Linked DNA regions of Homo sapiens: region 2 is reported to be linked to region 1. Evidence: microRNA targets listed by miRTarBase, many of them from high-throughput screens and not tested one by one. Region 1 holds a microRNA gene; the other region holds the end of a gene's coding sequence.

Evidence for each region. The annotated mature microRNA hsa-miR-101-3p reads UACAGUACUGUGAUAACUGAA and lies in region 1 at 2,456-2,476, shown strand. An mRNA with a match to its seed (bases 2 to 7 or 8) in the 3' UTR can be bound and repressed. Matches are read on the target gene's strand: a 7mer-m8 pairs with bases 2 to 8, a 7mer-A1 pairs with bases 2 to 7 and ends in A, and an 8mer does both.
Region 2: the mRNA of SMARCD1 is a reported target of hsa-miR-101-3p. Seed matches in the 3' UTR shown: 7mer-m8 at 2,154-2,160.

The regions. Positions count from the first base shown.
Region 1 is chr9:4,847,890-4,852,960 of GRCh38, forward strand. It overlaps MIR101-2 (microRNA 101-2), which reads left to right and starts at 2,408; the gene lies at 2,408-2,486. RCL1 (RNA terminal phosphate cyclase like 1) reads left to right here. Exons shown (of 9, transcript NM_005772.5): 8 at 1,558-1,661. It overlaps LOC124902113 (a long non-coding RNA gene), which reads left to right and starts at 2,478. Exons shown (of 2, transcript XR_007061402.1): 1 at 2,478-5,071.
Region 2 is chr12:50,098,439-50,103,508 of GRCh38, forward strand. SMARCD1 (SWI/SNF related BAF chromatin remodeling complex subunit D1) reads left to right here. Exons shown (of 13, transcript NM_003076.5): 12 at 276-377; 13 at 509-2,269. The coding sequence ends at 562. Among named protein-coding and RNA genes, the nearest start is that of GPD1, 3.0 kb to the right of the region's middle. RefSeq lists an enhancer at 4,580-4,629.

The sequences.
Region 1 (5,071 bases):
CTGCTCATCTCTCAAGGGCTGGCTCAAGTAGTCCTGAGTCCTAAAGCCCTCCTCAGGTATCTGGCAGGTGACACCTCCCCCCAGCATAGGTAGGGTGATAGCCCCTACCACTTCCTCCATGATGTCCTGTACAGGGACCTTAGCTATCTATTACATTAAAATACTGGTCCAGTGAATGGTGAAATAACAACAGTGATAGGAAGCAGAGACTGAAGAGAACACTTTAATTTTAGGCTGTCTTATGAAAGGGAGCAAGATCTATAAAACAGTTTTGTTGGTCGTCATATTTTCCATGGGTCAGGTTTTTCTTTTTGGGTAGAAAAGGAAAAGGAACTCTCCTTGTCCTAGAATTTGCTATGTGATCTAAATGTTGTTTTCTGTCCTTTATTAACTAAGGTAGTTTAGGGACGTGCAATAGATTTTCATAAAGGCTAGCAGTAAGATCAATCCTTATTTCCTTCACCATTATTAGGGCTACTAAATGATATCTGACAGCCAGAGAATTTCAGAGTGTCTGTATCTGAAAATGGATTTATTTCCTACCCTACATGCCTTAAAAAGGAGGCAGGGGCAGTTGTAGCCATATGAACCACACTGCTGGCCACCTATCCTGTTCAGTCTAGCCTTGGATAGTAACGTGCCTTGGTCAGACTGGATTTCTAATTTTGACCTGTGCAAAATATGTAGAAATTCAAGGTCATCCTTCTTTGACTATGTACAATATGTTTTAAAGTTATTCCAGAAAGAATGATCAGAAAGCGTGTTTGTATGCTTATGTATGCGTCTAGTGGAGGCAAAACAGTTAAAATGGCTGAGAAAATGAAAAACAAAAGAAGAAAGGCAACCTAAGCAGTTGTACCTCAGGAGAAAGTGTTTGAAGAGAAGTCTGTTCTGCTTGTTAATTTGGAAGAAAGGGAAGGAAAAGGGGGTGGAAGGCATAATTTTATACATAAGTAGTAAGAATAAAGGGATCTAACCTTAACAAGTCTTCAGTTTTAAGGAACTCAGGAAGAGATAAAGGAGAGAAGTTAATAGAGTATGGCAAGCAGTTTCCTGAATGTATTTGAATAAGTGTAAAAGTAAGGCCATGAAAAGGCCGTTTCATGTCAGATAGACTGTGTTGTTCTGTGACAGATTCAATAAATATGAGCGTCATCCACTTAACCCTTGGAATTAACTCTACATCTTCTAGAACTGATTAAGATTTTTTTTTTTTTGCATATACTCAATAAAGATGATGTCCTCCTGCTGCTGCTTTAATGATAAAGGGAAAGTTTCATTTTTTTTTTTTTTTACTAGATTCACTTAAGAAGATTTGAATCTGATAGTCTCATTCTGATAGTCTCAACTATTACAGTTGCTCTAATTAACTGTTAGTTTAACCCTCTACAGTTAGTTGATACAATGATTACTCTTATAAGACCTGTATTCTGTTTTATTGTTGCTTGAACTTTGGATTTTGATATTATGAGTGTATGTTTCTGGTTTTTTTTTTCCTCCTCTCTTTTGTTGGCTTTCCATTTTCTGGTTTGTACAATTATTAATTTGTGTTTACAGGGTGGATGCGTAGACTCGACCAACCAAAGCCTGGCGCTACTACTCATGACCCTTGGACAGCAGGATGTTTCCAAAGTCCTGCTAGGCCCTCTCTCTCCCTACACGTAAGTTATTCTTTTTCAACCTCGTTATTCTGTCCAGTGTAATTTTCTCATTGCCCAAAATGACAAAGGGTGTTGTGCTGCACAGAGCCTGCACTATGAACACCTGCTTGTGTTTATCCTCAAATCAGCCAGCAGTTGTCACTCTTAACCTGGTGTTTATTTTTACATACAAGGATTTTTGCATTTCTTTCCTTCCTTAATCCCAGGTAACTGAAATTGCATGATCTCTATTGGGCAGTTATTTTGTTCGTGCTTTAGATTTTGTTTCCAGGTTAGAGGTAAACTCCTGGTTTGGTGTAGCTTGGATTTTATTACTAGTTTTTTTTTAATCATTCTTTTCCTTAGCTGTCTAACTTGCTGTGGGAAAACAGGCTTTTTGTCTAAGATGATAGGATATGAGCTCACTGGGAAAGATGACAAAAGACAGAGTTTGTATTAATGCTACTGGACTAGTAGGGAATTGTAGAAGTGAGTTTGGATTGTTGAATGTTAGCAGAAGTTGACTGCTGTGGTGTAAAAGCAAGCACTCTTCAAAAAGAACAGTGTCAGAAGACTTGAATTATAAATGACACTGTGAAAGAAGCATTTCCTATTGATAGTAAATGAGGTTGCGGAAAACAGCCTATTTGAGTACTGACATTGTGTGTGTGTGTTTTCACGTGCTTGCATACTTGGAGATCATCATATGGCCCATCTGAGGTTGGTGAGCTGGGTGGCAGGGAATATTCAGGTAGATATGAGACTGAACTGTCCTTTTTCGGTTATCATGGTACCGATGCTGTATATCTGAAAGGTACAGTACTGTGATAACTGAAGAATGGTGGTGCCATCACATTGAGAAAGGGTTGAGGACTGCGGTGGGGCTATGCACCCTTGGGCCATGGCGTTGGGGGCATGAAAACCAGGAGCTTGAAATAAATTCTTATGGAGGCTTTTTTTTTTCTTTTTTTTTTTTTTTTTGGAATTCGTGGTGGGAGGTTTTTTTAGAACAGGAAAATGGAAGAGAATACATTCTGTTAGCAGAGAGGGAAGACTGATAAGCAGGAAACTGGTAAGGACCACATTATCTCCTGATAGCTTGTGTAAAAGTATTTCGTAGGACAGGATACCTAAAATTGAGTAATCCTAAATGGCGTGGTAACATCAGTAGTAAACAATGCTAAAATAGACTTGGTAGTTAAGTACTTGGAGAGGAGATGAGGGCTGGAAGAATGGCACCCTAGGTACAGAGACTCGCTTCCTGTAGAGAGCTCACTGGAGGCGGCTGCCAGCTGTGTGGCCACTGTGGCCCCACCGGCTTTGTAGCTGGGCTCGTAGCTGCCGTTTCCCAGCCCTTGCTTCAGGCCTGGGGAAGTCCTGCTTGCACACACGGTATGAGGTATGGGGTGTTGTCTTGAATGTGTGTGGTCCTGGGGCATGGGGTTTGGCAGAACATTCTGTGAAAATGGAATACATATATGTTTTTTTTCGTGACACTTTTTTTCTTTTGCTTTTGGAGATTTTTCAATTTGGCTCCAGGACCTGTATGATGTTTTCAAGCTTTGCAGAGATGCTCAAGATATGACTGGACATTTTTGAAAGTTCCTGTGTCCTCTTCAACACATCTTCTCACCAAACATTAATTGTAGTGTCTTTTCTTCCAGAAAACTTGCATAAAATGACTTCCTCTCCTGTGAAAACAGTGTCCTGCTCTGAATGGAGCTTTAAAGGAGTAGCACAAATTGTAAGATGATGTATCTTGAGGCTGGGGCTTAGAGATATTCTGCTGCCTCCCAGAGCTTTGTGCAGACGGGTCTGCCAGGGTGGGAAAGGGAAGCCTCCGTTCTTTTTGGTAAGCTAGCATAAAGACAGGTAAGGGAGTCTATTTTCAAGAAAGCTGGATCTGTTTCATACTCTTTCTGCCCCTAATCACTATGGACAGCTCCAGCAGCACAAAGAGATGAAGGGCAAAGGCAGGATGCAGCAGGCAAAGTTAACATTGTATTTGTGAGTACAGTTGAGGATAAAAAAGGGATGAAATCCACGGTGAGGACCATCATGGTGGGGGAATAGTTTATTCTAATGGATTCAAGAGCTTTGGAGACCAAACTAACACATTTATTTTTATGTGTAGTTAAAGTCATAGAAACCTGTTTTGTGAAACCTCAGATTTCTAAAGAAAACCAGAAGCAAGACCTTCCTTGGTTTAAAAAAAAAAAAGCATTTCTTCAAGCAGTTTGGACCTGTTTTTCGTGTGTATAAAACAGCTTTTTAAATGTCTATGTAAAGAGCATTGGGATTGCTGTTGGTGGTTTTCTGTGCTACTTGAGAAAGTAAGTCTGTATGTGTGAAACTCTTTTTTTTTTTTTGAGACAGAGTTTCGCTCTGTCGCCCAGGCTAGAGGGCAGAGGCGCAATCTCCGCCCACTGCAAGCTCCGCCTCCCGGGTTCAACGCCATTCTCCTACCTCAGCCTCCCGAGTAGCTGGGACTACAGGCACCCGCCACCGTGCCTGGCTAATTTTTTGTATTTTTAGTAGAGACGGGGTTTCACCATGTTAGCCAGGATGGTCTCGATCTCCTGACCTCGTGGTCCACCCGCCTTGGCCTCCCAAAGTGCTGGGATTGCAGGCCTGAGCCACCAAGTCCGGCCAATGTGAAACTCTTTTAGAAAGGCCCAAGAGATTTTTTTTCAGTAGAATAAAATACTGTTGGATAATCACTGGTATATGAAGATTCTATTTCTGTTAAATTTGTTGAGTTTTAGGTGGCTTACAGTTAGTGACAGTAGTTGCACCCTCCATTCAACAAGCTTAATTTTACAGTTTAGGGAGGGAGGATTTATACTTTTGGATTAACAGCAAGAAAAATAGCAAAAATTAAGATGCATCTTAATTAGCACTTTCAGAAATTATTTGTGGAATGAGACTGCAGTTACCAGAGCTCTCTGCATTCTGCCAGTGCACAAGTCTTGGAGTCCAGCCTATCTGGACTTAAGGCTCTACCACGCGCTACCAGGAGACCGTGGAAATGGTATTTAGCATCTTGGAGCCTTGGTGTCATTTGTAGATAAGGTGCGTGGTCCTGAAGTCCTGGACTTGTGGAGATGGAACGAAGCTTAGATTAAGTCAGATGCTTAGTGCTCCTGGCAACGTGCCTGAGGAGCTGTCAGTGCTGGGTGCTGTGGTTCCTGCCTGGACACCCCTTCACCCTGCTGCAGTCCAGTCCCTTGGTCAGGTCACTTTTTTTTTTTTTTAACTGCTCCTTGAGGAGCAGGACTACCCCAGAGGCAGTGTGGCTAGAGTAGCCCGGTCAGGTCACTTTGAACCCCAGGAGGCCTAGTAAACTTGCTTTGGGTGATTTTAGGGTTTAAGTCATCTGTAAGTGGTCTGCCCAGCTACCTATAAATCTATATCCATTAATTTTAAATTAT
Region 2 (5,070 bases), not on the chromosome of region 1:
GTCTTCCTTCTGTATGTGTCTGTCTCCATGTCTAAATTTCCCCTCTTTATAAGGGAACCTACCGGTCATATTAGGGGGTACTCTAATGACCTCATCTTAACTTGAGCATCTGTAGAGACCCTATTTCCAAATAAGGTCACATTCACAGGTACTAGGGGTTGGTTAGACTTCAACATTTTGGGGAAGGATACAATTTACCCAATAATGGGTGTGAAGGAAGGAAACAAGCCTTTTCTCCTCTCTCTTCCTCCACCCTGCATCTCCATTTCCCTCAGACAATGACTGATGTGGTGGGTAACCCAGAGGAGGAGCGCCGAGCTGAGTTCTACTTCCAGCCCTGGGCTCAGGAGGCTGTGTGCCGATACTTCTACTCCAAGGTAAGTACATGGGGTGCACGGGGGAAATTGACAAAAGGCACGGGGTTTTCACCCCTGATGGGGGTCAGTGGTGTTAGATACCAACTTCTGGTTTGTCTCATCTTCCACTCCCTTCACTATTTTCTCCTTAGGTGCAGCAGAGACGACAAGAATTAGAGCAAGCCCTGGGAATCCGGAATACATAGGGCCTCTCCCACAGCCCTGATTCGACTGCACCAATTCTTGATTTGGGCCCTGTGCTGCCTGCCTCATAGTATCTGCCTTGGTCTTGCTTGGGGCGTTCCAGGGGATGCTGTTGGTTCAAGGACAACACCAGAATGAAGAGGGTCTCACAAGACACCTGTTATCCTCTTCTTTCACCCTATCTCTTCCCACCCCCAGCTTCCCTTTGCCCCACAAAGTTCCCATGTGCCTGTACCCTCCCCTGGTCTACATAGGACCTCTAGATAGTGTTAGAGAGAGAACATGTAGTGGTAATGAGTGCTTGGAATGGATTGGGCCTCAGGCCAGGTGGTCTTCAAGGGGACCAGCTAACTGATCCTGCCCTTCAGAGACCCAGGAGTTGGGAGCTTTCGCTCCTTCTCCAAGACTCAGGCCTGTGGGCACTCTATAAGCTAGTTGATCTTGGCTCTCCTGATAACAGAATCCAATTTCCTTCCTTCCCTCCACAGGTTTGGAACAAACTCTCCCTTCACTTGTTGCCCTGTAGCACTACAGAAACCCTGGTTCTTGGGCTCCACTGAGCCCCAGGTCAGTCCCCAGCCCTCTGGGTTGGCCTGCTGTCAGTGCTTCTCTCACTCCTTAGTTGGGGTCCACATCAGTATTGGAGTTTTGTTCTTTATTGCTCCCTCCCAGACACTCCCTGTGGCTGCCCTTTGTGATTCCCTCAGATCTGCCCTAATCCCGGGCATTTGGGTGGGGGAATCTTGCCTTTCCCTTTCAGAGCCCCAGGGATCTCATCTGGGGAACTGTCATTGCCAGCAGAGGCTGTTCCTTCCTGCTGTTTGGAGATGTGACTCATTCATTCACTCACTCCACCCTGCCTCTGCATCCCTTAATGGAGAAACGGGCCTAAAACCAAACGGGTAAAAAGCCCTGGGCCATCCCTGTCTTCCTGTCCCTTGTCTGCCCAGTTGACACCTACTGGTGACTTCTAGGGCACTGAGGAGTGAAAGCGCCTAGGGCTGGAGAATAGCGCTGAGTTGGGTTTGTGACTCTTCCCTCTCCCTGCCTCACAGGATTGTGACTCCCCAGCCCCTGCCCTCAAAGCTTCAGACCCCTCAGGTAGCAGCAGGACCTTGTGATCTTGGCCCCTTGGATCTGAGATGGTTTTTGCATCTTTCCAGGAGAGCCTCACATTCTTCTTCCAGGTTGTATCACCCCCGAGTTAGCATATCCCAGGCTCGCAGACTCAACACAGCAAGGGTGGGAGACAGCTGGGCACAAAGGGGGAATTCCGTTCAGCATGGGCTCTAAACCCACAGAACTGACAAAGCCCCTGCTTCCCCACCCCCTCCTCAGGCTCCTGCGAGCACACCCCCACCCCCAAATCCCTCCCTGTTCTACACTGGGGACAGCAGAATTTTCTCCCCGTCTTCCCCTTCCTGCCATTTTCCCTCCCTTGAAAGGTTGACACTGGACAACCTTGGGGCAGCTGAGCCCTGGCCGCCTCCTGGCTGGAACCATGAGAAGGAAGCTCAGTACTTCCCACAGTGTCCCTGTTGATAACTGTTTTTATTAACTGAATTGTTTTTTTCATGGACCAAACTTTTTTTTGTACTGTCCCCTTATTGATGTTACCCAGTTTTAATAAAAGAATCTTCTGAAGGATGGGTCCTCCTACCTACTGTGAGAGAGCTCTTCCCTGAGCTCTTCTTCCTTCAATACCATTAGCCACGCTTGTAGTGTTTGTTCATTTTATTTGACAAGTATTTATTGAGCACCTGCTATGTGCTAGTTGTGATGCTAGACACGGGAGATAAAGTGGAAAATGAGATTTCTACTTTTGTGGACCTCAGGGTCTTACCTTAAGAGATTGCTGTCTGCCCCAGTGGTCCAAGCAGCCTAGTTGCTGGTTGGGATTATTGGGCTTCACCACTGGATCTTAAGAGCCCTTTCCCGACTTGCTAGGCAGGTACTAACAGGTTGGTGGCAGTCATTTTCCCCCTTGTCCATCTGAGCTCCCCAGAGCACTTGTTGGCTGGAGTGAGCCATAGATGCCCGTGATCCCTTAGGTTTGACGAACCTGAGCCGCCTTTGGAGGAGTTTCACTTCTTCCCCAGGGCTTCTGTTTAGATGTGGGCAGGATCTGGACGACCAAAGACATTTTTGCTTTTTGTGCCTGCTACTCTTTTTTTTTTTTTTTTTTTAGACGGAGTCTCACTGTTGCCCAGGCTGGAGTGCAGTAGCGCGATCTTGGCTCACTGCAAGCTCTGCCTCCTGGGTTCACGCCATTCTCCTGCCTCAGCCTCCCGAGTAGCTGGGACTACAGGCGCCTGCCACCATGCCCGGCTAATTTTTTGTATTTTTTAGTAGAGACAGGGTTTCACCGTGTTAGCCAGGATGGTCTCGATCTCCTGACCTCGTGATCCGCCCGCCTCGGTCTCCCAAAGTGCTGGGATTACAGGTGTGAACCACCGTGCCCAGCCTGTGCCTGCTACTCTAAGGTTCCGCTTTCATGGTTCAAATAAGAGTTCAGTTTTTGTTTGCCTGTTTTGAGATGGAGTTGTGTTCTTGTTCCCCAGGCTGGAGTGCAATGGCGCGTTCTCGGCTTACTGCAACCTCCGCCTCCCAGGTTCAAGTGATTTTCCTGCCTCAGCCTCCTGAGTAGCTGGTTCTTAAGAGCACCATGGAAGTTCTGTGTTGTCATCCTCATACTGTAGACAACTAGCCCCTCCTTGGCAGAGTTTGGAAGACAGCTCAGGAGGGATTCCCATTAGCAATCACTTGAAACTCGCCTGCAGTTCTGCCTGCTTCCCACTTGGAGGCTCATGACTTTTTTCCTTTGTCATTATGCAAGAATGGGGTTTGGAATATAGGATCAGAGTACAACCACTTTCCAAAGTTGTAGTTTAAAAATTATCCTTTGCCTGTTTGGATGGGAACATTCTAGTATTGCCTGTTCAATATATGTAATCAAACCCACCAAAAAATCCAACCACTGTTCCTACTCCGGAACTTGGGGTTTATCAGACTTGAGAAGGGAAAGCAGAGAGGAGTGGTTGGGCCGATAACTAGGAGTGGAGAAAATTGATGTCAAGGACATTGAAATGGCATCTGTTTTTACCCAGGCTAATTACATGTGTAATGAATGGCTGATGAACCATTATTAATTTCAAGCAAATCTACAGTTTGCTCTTGGGAAAAGAGCTCTAGTGATACAGATAACTTCCTGTGATGAGCCGATTCTGAATCTCTGCACCCTCTTTATTCCCATGTAAATGAGCACATTCTTAGTCTCCACACTATCTAAAATGATTGTAGGGGCAAAATGAGAGAGGGAAGCATTTAGGCAAAAACAAGGGGGTTATTTTATGCATAAACATCCATTCTTTGGGGCTCCCATCATTTGTGCCAGGGACAGAAGCATCCTTTCTCTTCCATCACCCGTAATCAGTGCTCCCAGCTGGCAGCCTGGCACTGGAGCCTTCATCTCAGTGCCAGTGCAATAAAGGAGTGGTCTGTGGGAGGCTGTTTCTGTATTAGGTATAACATTGTGCTAAGAAAAACAGCCAACTACTGATTTCATGTCCGTTTCCCTATGGGAAATTACTGGCCATGGAAGGAGAATATGGTTGGTTTTTCCTGGGCAGTCCCCGGAACTTAGAAAGCCATTTCTCCCCAGTCTTGACCTCCTGCCTGCTTACTCCTACCCATGGGTTGCACACAGACTCCCCTGTAGCCCAGTGCTTGTTACCAGTTGCTGGCCAGCAACAGCCCAGGGGGATGGCAACACCCACCTAGCCGTCTGCCAAGCCAGGAGGTCAGCACATGAGCACACAGTGGTGTCTGCCCTCTAGGCCAAGGTGCACAGTGTTAGGAGCCTCTTGCTCCACTCTCCAGATCAGCCTGGAAACCAGAGCTTCCCTCGTCTTAGACAAACAGATGGCCGTGGGCGATGCAGAGCCCTGAACTGCTGAGGGTGCTCCTTCCATTCTCGCCCTTCCCCAAAAAACATACACCAAACTTACCCCCAATCACAGCATCTGAGACCACAAAGCCCCACGGACACAGCTGCCCCGGGTACTGCCTGCCTTCCCCTTTTCTGGCCTCTGCAAACTAGCCATTCACCTGATGAAGCCCCTGGGGCAGTACCTTGGAAACCCCTGAGAGGAGGAGTTGAAGGAGGCTCAAAGCCTTTCAAGGACAGTGTGCACTCTGCCTGCCTCCTATTCTCTCCTGTCCTCTTAAGCCCAGAGTCTACAACAAAATTGTGTACCGCAATTCTCAGAGCTCTCTAACTTTAACCTTTCCCACCTTCCCTAGAACACATTTTTGGGTGGGGATCATCTGAGAGGCCCATGGATGAGTCCCCAAGATGACCTCTGTGGGTGACCAAGACAATCTTGTCTTTTGAGGCACCTGGAGTCTCTCATCCTTTTTTGAGCTGGGCTGTCCTCAAAGCAGGCCCTTACCTCTTATGTGGCCTCATCTTTAGAGGTGGGAAGTGGGCCCACATCCCCCACCCCAGCCC